Regions from separate parts of the Homo sapiens genome. Here all the other regions are linked to region 2. The links come from fine-mapping of genetic effects on gene expression. A gene starts in region 2. Each other region holds a variant in brackets. All regions are shown on one strand. Distances are between the middles of the regions.

Region 1 (2,738 bases), 75 kb before region 2:
AAAGCAGTGGCAAAGGAGGGCTAAACATACAAAATGCAAGCAACTTGGTCTGTAAGCAGTCAGTATGTCATTATCCTTCAACAGAACTCTTTCAATTGAATGTTTGTGGTTTAGAGGTTTTAGGATATAATATTTCTCACTTCAAAGAGTTTTTTTATATTACTATATGAAGCCATGGTGCATTTAACTGACTTAATAAAATGTAATTCTTACTTTAAGTCTTGAGAGGAGAAAAGCCTCTGTGAAAGAAATCTTTGTTAGCAAGGCATATAAGCAGAGTCCTGGTCTGCAATAATATTGATGATCACGACTTGTGTGTTACTATATAAAATTCAACCAGTCAAAATTCAACATCTTTAAGAATATTGCTACTTTGGGCAAAATTTGAGTTTCATTAGAGTAAAATCATTTCTGACATTTCATAAAGTTTAATGCAAACAAAAATGATTAATCATTCATAAATATGTAAACATATGATATTAAAAGGGTATATTACATTTGAGACAAAATGGCAGAATCAGAATTTTTTTAATTGCTAAGAATTTTATGTAGCAAGTTTGTTTATTCAGTAACATAATCACAAAATAGAAATATCACATTCACAGAAGTGGAAATAAAGAGCATAAAATATTTTTAAAACAGGAAAGCAATGGGATCACTTTCAAGAGCCTCAAAGAAAACCTTTAATTTACAATGCTACGCTTTCATGATTAATAGGATTAATGTGTGGTTTTTCTTTGATAAAAGTAGTCATGATTTTTTAGTATTACATACATTCATTGCATATGACAGACACTCTGATAAAAATGTACTGTTCTAATTACTTAATTGTTTTGGCTCATTTAACACCTTGTTTAAATAGCTTTAAGACATATAAGAGGCAAATAATTATATATACTTAAGGATAAAATTTTCAGATATTTATCCAAACACACATTTACCCATTAAATTAGAACACTAACTGCTTAATATGTAAAACTAGTTTGAAATCATGACTCTTGATTAAATACATACTTCAACATCTCTCATGAGACTTCCCAACTTCAAAAATGACTTTAAAAAATTAGCTTGGGGGTGAATCACCAATACATTCAGAAACACGGCCAAAACAAGGAGTTTTATTTCAAAGACTGAATTCAGAAAATGAACCAACTATTTTTGTACATTATATTAA[T/C]AAATTGGTTCTTTGTTGAAAACCTCAAACATGAATGATATTAGCAATATGCATGTGTGAGACCCATTAAAAATGACAATTCAAAAAAATTACTGCTTAACCTAAAGGAAAAATGTTACTGTTGGATTCCTGCCTGGGGCTTAAATTGTGGTCTTGCATTAATAAAGTACGTTTGTTGATTCCCTAGCTTTGGGTGATACCTTGAAACCTTTTGTGTTTTCTGGGAGATATTTCACACAAGTTCTAAAATTTGAGAGTCCACTTAACAAAATAAAATTCCCACTTACATGATAATATATTAATTCTAATATTATATAAATAGAACAAATCTGATTCATTTATAGGGCAAGTGCTACATTCTGAACTATCTAACTCAAATTAAATTCAACTCTGTGGCAAACAATTCATTTTCTTATTAGGCAATCAATGTTACCTTCAATAAGGCAATTCCCATTTACCTTCTGGCCATAGCAGTTGTCTTAAAACCAAGTTCTAAACCTGTAGTTCATGTAAAAGGATATGATTTCCTTAGCAAGTAGTTAAGAAAATCTACAATAGGCCGGGAACGGTGGCTCACACCTGTAATCCCAGCACTTTGGGAGGCTGAGGTGGGTGGATCACCTGAGGTCAGGAGTTCGAAACCAGCCTGGCCAACATGGCAAAACCACATGGCTACTAAAAATACAAAAATTAGTCGGGTGTGGTGGTGGGCACCTGTAATCCCAACTACTCGGGAGTCTGAGGTACGAGAATCACTTGAACCCAGGAGGCAGAGGTTGCAGTGAGCTGAGATTGCACCACTGCACTCCAGCCTGGGTGACAGAGCAAGACTCCATCTCAAAAAACAAAACAAAACAAAAAACTACAATAGAGATGTATGTCAAAGAGAATATAAGTTCTTAAGAAGCTGCGTCTAATTAGTGAAGCTCTCCCTTCCCATATTCAGTGATCCAAGAAACTGAAATTTAAATGGAAAAATGAATCTGTAAAGTTATAGATGTCAAATTCTCAGATTCTTCATTGTTATTTCCCAAGTGGAAAAGGATTAGAAATAATAGAATATTATTGATTTTTAGAGGAAAGTAGATTAAAAAGTGTTTACATTTTTAAAACTTTATACAGTGTTGCTCAATGCTCACCAATAGACCATTGCATTCATTTGTATATGCAAATTAAACTGGAAAATCCATAAAAACATATGTATCACCAGTAAATGAATCAGTAAAGTACAATATAACACAAAAGAAAACGAAATATTGCTTGATTTTTTCCAATAAAAGCAAGGTTAATAAAAACATTTTTAGTAAGAAAATCTATCATTTTTGTTTTAAAAATCTTTCAATTTTAAACATCATTACCAACACATTAAAAGTATTATCAATAAGTGCCTTTACAATTTCAAGCAAAAGCTACTGTGTTTTCCTTATTGGAAATACTGCTTTCAGTCATCTTTTTTGTCTGAGGTACTCTCTTCATGCTTTTCAGGGCTGACTTTATTACTGGCGGTGGAGGGGGTTGTCTGGACTTCTTTTGGTAATGAAAACACATGGCACGTCTGGAGGTC
Region 2 (2,500 bases):
ACATGAAAACTTCAAAATTGTTCCCCCACCCCCCCAACCCCCGCAGAACACACGGACAAATGTGGTTAGCAGGGTCTATCTTGTTCTCTGATCACTAACTTCAACAAAGAGGAAGTCCAAAGAGTGCAACTGCCAATGGTAAAAGGAACCCTTTACAAGAAAAAGGAAAGGAAAGGAAACTTCCTTTGTGCATAACAGTATAGCCATTTTTAACAATGGAAAACAGCCTGGGCTACTACTTCTCATGCTTCAACTTAGGAAACGTTTTTAGGTGAAGACTGATTCTGGACCAAAACTTCTTGAACATCCTAAGCTGACTCAGTTGTCCCTTTTCTTTGATTCTGACTTCCCACCCTCCATCATGCTCCTGCTCAGCTAAATCTTTCCAGCCTTACCTGTTGTTCTAACCACAGACCTAGGCTCTCTGCCTTCTGCCTCACTCTTATCCATCCCATACTGACTCCTCTCCTTCCTAAGGCAAAAAAAAAAAAAAAAAGACTTCTTCAAATCTACTCTCCCGTAGTAGATCTGCCTCCCACTACACTCTCATAAACTCAAGTTGAAGCTTCTGTCACAGATTCACAGATTCCTTCAACCTTCTGGGGCATGGAATGTAGCCTGCGCCACCAGCCAGCTCAGTCTCTTCCTGTTTTGGATTCTCCTCTCAGGCCCGCATCTTCCCAGCATCTTCTCTCCTCCCGTGCCCGCTCAGACCATCCTCTAAATGTCCTCAATTCTCAGACACACATCTCCGCCCCTTTCAGGCTCACGGCCCCTCAGAAGTCCTCTCCTCTCAGATCCACTGCTCTTTCTTCCTCTGATGCCTTTGCTTCCCAGACCCACAACGCCCCTCAGACCCACGCGCCCCTCGACCGCCCTCCCCCGTCAGACCTACACCAGTCACCTGGACCCGCCCCAGACCCTGGCTCCCCTCGGGCCACCTCCCTCCTCAGACCCATGCCCCCTTCAGGCCACCTCCCTCCTCAGACTCTCGCCCGCCTCGGACCACCTCACTCCCTCAGACCCACGCCCCCCTCGGCCGCCCTCCTCTCTCAGACCCACACCCCTTACCTGGACCCCCCTCTGACCTAGGCCCCCCTCAGACCACCTCTCCCCTCAGACCCACGCCCCTCACCTGGACCCGCCTCGCGGAGCCGATCTGCGTCTGCTGCACGAAGGGGTTCGGCACCGGCGGCGGGAAGAAGGACGCCTGACGGGGCACCATGGGCGGCCGCAGCCCCACGTTCCCGACGCCGGCACCTGGCACTGTGGCCGCCACTTCCGCCGCCTGGGCGCACCGGCTCATAGTTGAGCCGGGCGTAGAACCCGGCCGAAGCGATCTACGCGGGCGCTGCAGCCAAAACTGAGCCGAAGACCTACTAGAGTCCCAGCCTAGGGCGACGCTGGGGAGCCTCTGCGCAGGCGCTGAAGTTACTTAGACGCCTGCTGCTGCCGCCCTGCCCCTTCGGCTGTGACACGCCCCAGGCTCTGGCCACACCCCCTCAGGCATCTGGCTCCACCCCCTTGGTAATATAGTCCATCCCCTCGGAGGGGAATGTTTTCCTTCCGAGCCAAGACCCTGAAGGGTACCCCAGGATCCCTAACATTCCACAGCGAGACACTAGGCAGAGTTCCCTGCTTTAGGGTCGGACGGACCTGGATTTTCAATCCCTTTTACTGGGCCTGTGACGCTGGCCAAATCACTATCTCTATGAACCTCGGTTGCCTTCCGTAAAATGCAGATAAATGTATTCTCAGATAATCCTAACCTGGATCCAGTAATGCCATTGAGCAACCACTTCCCCTGGGCTGTTCCATTAAGTGAGCTAATATTAATACACCCATGATGGCACTAGGAGTGGAATTTGTTTCACTCAAAACATAATGGACTGACAGGGGAGAGATGGTTCTCCAGAGGAAAACTGAGCTACTATTACCAGAAAAGGCAAAAATTACAGTTGCCCTCCACGCTAGATGAGGAACCTGACCCAGAAAAGGGAAATGTATTGGGCTGTGGCTCCCTTTCACACTGAGGAAGTTCAAGCCTGTTTGGACCTATGTGGGTGCTCGTGGGGGTGGGAGGGCAGGGGTTTGTCCCATTATCTGAGGACAGTTGATCAACCCTGAGTGGCTGAGAGTTAAAGGAAGGAGATGATAATCAACTCATCCCAACTGATCAACTCTTCTCACAGCAGGTAGGAAGGCCAGGATGAAAATCTGAGTCTGAGCCCTGGGGTTCTCCAAAGTTACCCTCTGAATGTCAGAATCTTCCAGCCCTACCACATAGATGTGTGGCCTTGAGTCAGTCACTTAACCTGAGTTTGCTTCCTTGTCTAGGAATGGGAGATTCATTCTAACTCCATAGAATTGTAGCAAGGATTAAATAAAATAATGCATGTGTAGTGTTCATAGAGAAACACTGAAGAAATGGCATGTTTTAAGCATTATTATGTTGTGGAGCCACTGACTTTTCTCTCAGTGTAACAGGGAACATTAATAA
Region 3 (2,500 bases), 35 kb before region 2:
TATGAGGTAATGGGGCACTGGGCTTGTACTCAGGAGATCTGTTTCTAAGCCCTGGGTCTGCTTGTGTGTTAACTAGTATGTCATTTAACTTTGATGAACCATTTCAACTCTAAAAAGAGGGCTAAGATCACTACTTCCCTGGTGATTGTGAGGGTGAAACAAGTCAGTGTCTGGAATTCTGGAAGTGTAAAGCTGTAGCTACTAAGATCTTTCTCCTCGAGCTGCATTTTCTACCACTCTCATCCCTTTATGTGAAACTCCCATCCCTTTATGTGAAAACTTTTTTTTCTTTTCTCTTTGCCTTTCATCTTCTCTATCCATTCTAATGTCAACCATATTTTTACTATTTGTTTGAACTTTATGTTTTGTCATTTATTCTGCTTTTTAAAAAAACTCTTAGTATTGGCTTTACAGCTTTTTTGCTTAACACCATTTTTTGCTTTAGCATTTTTAATTCTACTTTTTCTCCACTTGATGTTCTGTGATGCCTCAATTGTATTGTTCTTGTTTTTATTTATGGTTTCCTGACATTAACAAGGTTTTAGTGCCATATTCAAGTTATTACGTATTTTTCAGCACCTACTATATACCAGGCAAGATTAATAGGACCCTATTTCCTGCTCTAAAGAAGATCAATATTTTAATAGTATAGAACAACACATTAATAACCCCATATGCTAAGTGTCATTACCCTTATTACCCCCAATTATAGATGGGGCTCAATAGCTTAATTAACTTACCTAAAGGCATGCAAGTCACATGGCCAGAATTCAGCCCAAGATTTGTCAGATTCAAAAAAAACCCTTATTTTCTCCACTAACCATCCTTCCTGGAGTATGAGAGCAAGAGGTAGGAAAGGATTAATTTTGTCAGGGGCCAGGGAAATGCAGCCAAAGAGGAAGGTGGTGCCTAGGGAGAGAGTGCACACAGGAAAGCTAATTCTGTTAAGGGTGCTCTATAGAAGAACTAATACTTGATGTTGGCTTTTTAAGAATAAGTGAGATTTTGCCAATAGTTACTGTTTATTGAATTATAACTACAAACCAGGCATCATGCTAGGTGTTTTACATA[C/T]GTTATTTTATTTCATTAATTTTTCCCCCATAGTAGGTGCTCAGGCACTGCACTAAGCCCTACAAACATGACAGCAAAGTCCCTGCCCTCAAGAAGCTCTCCATTCAGTAGGGTAGAAATTTATGAAACAGTGAGCTAAATCCACCAATAAGAGTTACCATCCATTAAACATCTACTGTGTGCTGGGTATTTTATATTAGGGGCTTTATATGATTAACTCTCTAAACAATTCCTTGAGGTAAATCTTACCACTTCCATTTGATAAATAAAGAATGCAACTAGAAGTAGTTAAAAATACCATTTTTTTCCAAATGGACCTGTTTTCAAGTCTTGTCAATCATATTAAGAAAACTGTAAGCATTGGTATCTCAGAGGTGACATTTAAGCAAGGGAATGACATGACCAGGTCCAAGTTTTTAAGTGGTAACTTCAGCGGTAAGGAGTGTATGCACCAAAGAAGAGACTAAGAGCAGGGAGAATGTCTGGAAGCAGCTGCAATCATGGGAGAGATAATAAGACCTTGAGTAGAGGGAGTGAGGATGTGGAGGATGGCATGGATGCAAGTTGCCTTTTTAAGATAAAATGTATGGAATTATAGAATAATGTGCTACAGGATATTTACTTTTCACATTTATCTGATTATTTCCTCTCTAAGGGGGCAGCTGCAAGCTGCAGAAAGTGTTCTTGGACTGGGTTGCTGCTTGAGATCTGCCGTGTGATCCTGGAAAAGTCATTTAGCCTTTATGAGCCTCAGTGCCCTCTCCTGTCAAATGAAAAAATTTAACTAAACGATCTCTGAAGTCCTTCCCATTGGAATTCTGTGTGTGGCTCTCTATTTTGCATAGTTGTTTTTTAAGATAGAAAAATAAACTAAGCCACCAGAGGTCCCCACATCCTTATATATCTAGAATAACTATCTTGGCAAAGAAATATTTCTAAAAATTCCCTGCATCCTGATCTAGTAAAATTTCTTGTATTTGCTTAGTATAAAATCCAAGAAAAAAACAGTAAGTTGAAATTAATGTTCATAAAATCTCTAACAAAACAGTGTAAGAAATTAAAGTTTTTAATTGCCATATAATTCTTCATTTTTTAAAAAAGTCAAACAACCATTTGTAATACACTTGATTTAGGTCATAAAAGGTCATACTGAAAACCTTGAAAAATAAATTGCTGCTACACTGTTAACCAAACATAATACAATGAAATACAGGTTTGGTTTTATATTAGTGCAGGTAGTATTTTTCATAAAATGATTTTTAATAACTCTCATATTGGCGTGACATCTTATTCTTAAGGAATAAAGTTCCACTGAGAGTACAAAATAATTAAAATCCTAAATTTGACACCCATGGGCCTTGGAGGCCCCATTCCTCCTAAGAAGCAATTCAATGGAAATTCTAATAAAAAGTCACCTCTCCTAGAATAA
Region 4 (2,500 bases), 42 kb before region 2:
AAGTATTTACCCAAGTAAAATGAAATGAAAACCTACATTTATATAATAACCTATATACAAATTCTTAGAATGACAGCTATAGTCACATTTGCCCCCAACTGTACACAAACCAAATATTCCTCAACTAGGGAATAGATAAAGTAACTATGGTACATCTATACAATTGAATACTACTCAGCAATGAAAGGGAATTAATTATTGATCTATAAAACACCATGCCTGGATCTCAAATGCATTATACTTGGTGAAAGAAGCCATACTCAAAAAACTATATACTGTATGATTCCATTTATATGACATCTGGAAAAAGATAAACTATATTGATGGAGAACAGATCACTGGCTGCCAGGACTTAAAACTGGGGGAAGGGCTTGACTACAAATGGAATAGCTGCAAGAAAATATATATATTTTTTCAACTGTTGTGTATCTTGAATGCAGTGGTAGTTACATGCTTCTGTGCATTTGTTAGAATTCATAGAACTGTAACCAAAAGAGTGCATTTTACTATCAATTTTTTTTTGAGAATAGGGTCTTGCTCTGTTGCTCAGGCTGGAATGCAGTGGCATGATCTTGGCTCATTGCAACCTCGCCTCCTGGGCTCAAGTGATCTTCCCACCTCAGCCTCCTGAGTAGCTGGGATTACAGGTGTGCACCACTATGCCTGGCTAATTTCTGTATACTATCAATTTTATATATTAAAACACAAATTAAAAAATAGAAAACCTGAAGTTGTGAACAGTTTTCCTAGGGAAACTTTTTGACAGTTCAATTATCTAATTGCATGTCCTTAAATATTCATAAGCAGCAAACTGTATCCCTAATATAATGGCAAATGGCCAGATTTTAATTAAAATCTTTGTTACAAAATGTCACTTGAAAATAAAAATCTATTTGGTCTTCATACAGGTTTGTGGAAGTCTAAAACCTTCAGAATAAAATTCTAAACACCCATGTCATCAATGTATGAGTTTTGATATAAAT[T/G]TTAAAATTCCTGCCAATGATATAAACTCTTCCAGTTCCATACCACAAATGTGGTTATATGGTCACAATATTTATTTCTGACCTGGTATTTAAAATAATAGATACATACATTATATCATATTACACTAAAATAATAGATATATATATGATATGATATGATATGATATTTTATTATATATGACAGTATAATAAATGTTACAATACACACACACAATTATTAATATTACTATTAAGGAGAAAAAAACAAAATCATGCAATTAAACCATAGGCTCAGCCTTGATTCTTCTAACACTGACCTATCAAGTTTTTCAAATTGCCTACCATATTGATTTACTCACTGTAGGACTGACAGAGTAAAAATGTGAAAGATTAAATTTTAACATACCCTGTCAAAGAGTGCAAAAAGTTGTCTCAAGACATCTGAAACAGGCAACTTTAAATACTTGGCGAATTCTTCAATTCCAATTCTTCCTCCTTTTGAGGAACTCGCAATAGATGCATATTCATCCAAATGCTTACGAACACCATCCCAATCTAATCTAAACAAACAAAGAATTATAGATACATGTTATTAGCCCTTTACAATTCACATGCACATTTTATGATCATTATTTTATTAATGTATCTGGGAGAAAAATATTTTAAGTGTTAAATTTGTAAAGGAGAATAAAATAGGTACTTAAAAGCACATATTCAACATATATGCAGGCATTTAATCTTTTATTTTGTATTTTTTAGGAGAGATGGGGTTTCACCATGTTGGCCAGGATGGTCTCGATCTATTGACCTCGTGATCCGCCTGCCTCGGCCTCCCAAGGTGTTGGGATTATAGGTGTGAGCCACCACGCCCGGCCCGCATTTAATCTTTTAAAGGATACTTGTATAACTAACAATTATCTCAAATATCTCAGGGAAAGAAAAGTATATGAAAAGAAGAACATTGTAGTGGAATAATAAATTATTCATGAGAAGAAAATAAGAAAGCAAATATTTTAAATCTAAACATTACTTAGTGAGTCCATAGTCTGTATTAAGTTTTTAAAGATGAAATAACAATTCTTGCTTTCAAGAAGCTTTCAGGCTGATAATGAATTCATATTTCACAAAATGTTATGATAGGGGGATTCATTAGACTATACACATGTCCTCCAAGATTAGTTATGAAAAACTACGGTGATAAAACACTGGAAAATGTACTGTAGCTTACATCATAGCCTATCTTTGCTTTGTTGAATTAAACTAATGACCTAACATATATTCTTAGCCCAATTTCAGTGACTAACTAAACTTTTTAAATCTACAGAACATTGTAACTATAATATGCAAACAAAAGCAAAACATTTTTATTATCTTACAATATAAATAATATTTTCTATATCAGTTATCAAAATATTATACTTTAATACTGAACTTTGATATAGTAACTGGTTCTTCAGCTCCTTCATAGACAGGATGTTAATTAATAAATTCTGCAAATTCCAGTTAGGGCTGAGAACAGAATGAACTGCAGTAAGGGT

Evidence for each region. PIP is the estimated chance that this variant, and not a neighbour inherited with it, causes the effect. A credible set is the group of variants that fine-mapping cannot tell apart.
Region 1: its variant is the best candidate, but not a certain one, in a credible set for the expression of LPCAT2 in monocytes after triphosphate RNA (Kim-Hellmuth 2017, PIP 0.90).
Region 3: its variant is the best candidate, but not a certain one, in a credible set for the expression of LPCAT2 in whole blood (TOPMed, PIP 0.53).
Region 4: its variant is the best candidate, but not a certain one, in a credible set for the expression of LPCAT2 in whole blood (TOPMed, PIP 0.72).

What each region holds. Positions count from the first base shown.
Region 1 is chr16:55,582,976-55,585,713 of GRCh38, reverse strand. It overlaps LPCAT2 (lysophosphatidylcholine acyltransferase 2), which reads right to left. Exons shown (of 14, transcript NM_017839.5): 14 at 1-2,738. The coding sequence ends at 2,616. Among named protein-coding and RNA genes, the nearest start is that of CAPNS2, 18 kb to the right of the region's middle. The variant T/C (reference allele first, on the strand shown) is at 1,175.
Region 2 is chr16:55,507,988-55,510,487 of GRCh38, reverse strand. It overlaps LPCAT2 (lysophosphatidylcholine acyltransferase 2), which reads right to left and starts at 1,416. Exons shown (of 14, transcript NM_017839.5): 1 at 1,136-1,416. The coding sequence starts at 1,306.
Region 3 is chr16:55,543,116-55,545,615 of GRCh38, reverse strand. The region is part of intron 8 of LPCAT2 (lysophosphatidylcholine acyltransferase 2); the gene reads right to left. Among named protein-coding and RNA genes, the nearest start is that of CAPNS2, 22 kb to the left of the region's middle. The variant C/T (reference allele first, on the strand shown) is at 1,072.
Region 4 is chr16:55,549,971-55,552,470 of GRCh38, reverse strand. It overlaps LPCAT2 (lysophosphatidylcholine acyltransferase 2), which reads right to left. Exons shown (of 14, transcript NM_017839.5): 11 at 1,369-1,522. Among named protein-coding and RNA genes, the nearest start is that of CAPNS2, 15 kb to the left of the region's middle. The variant T/G (reference allele first, on the strand shown) is at 984.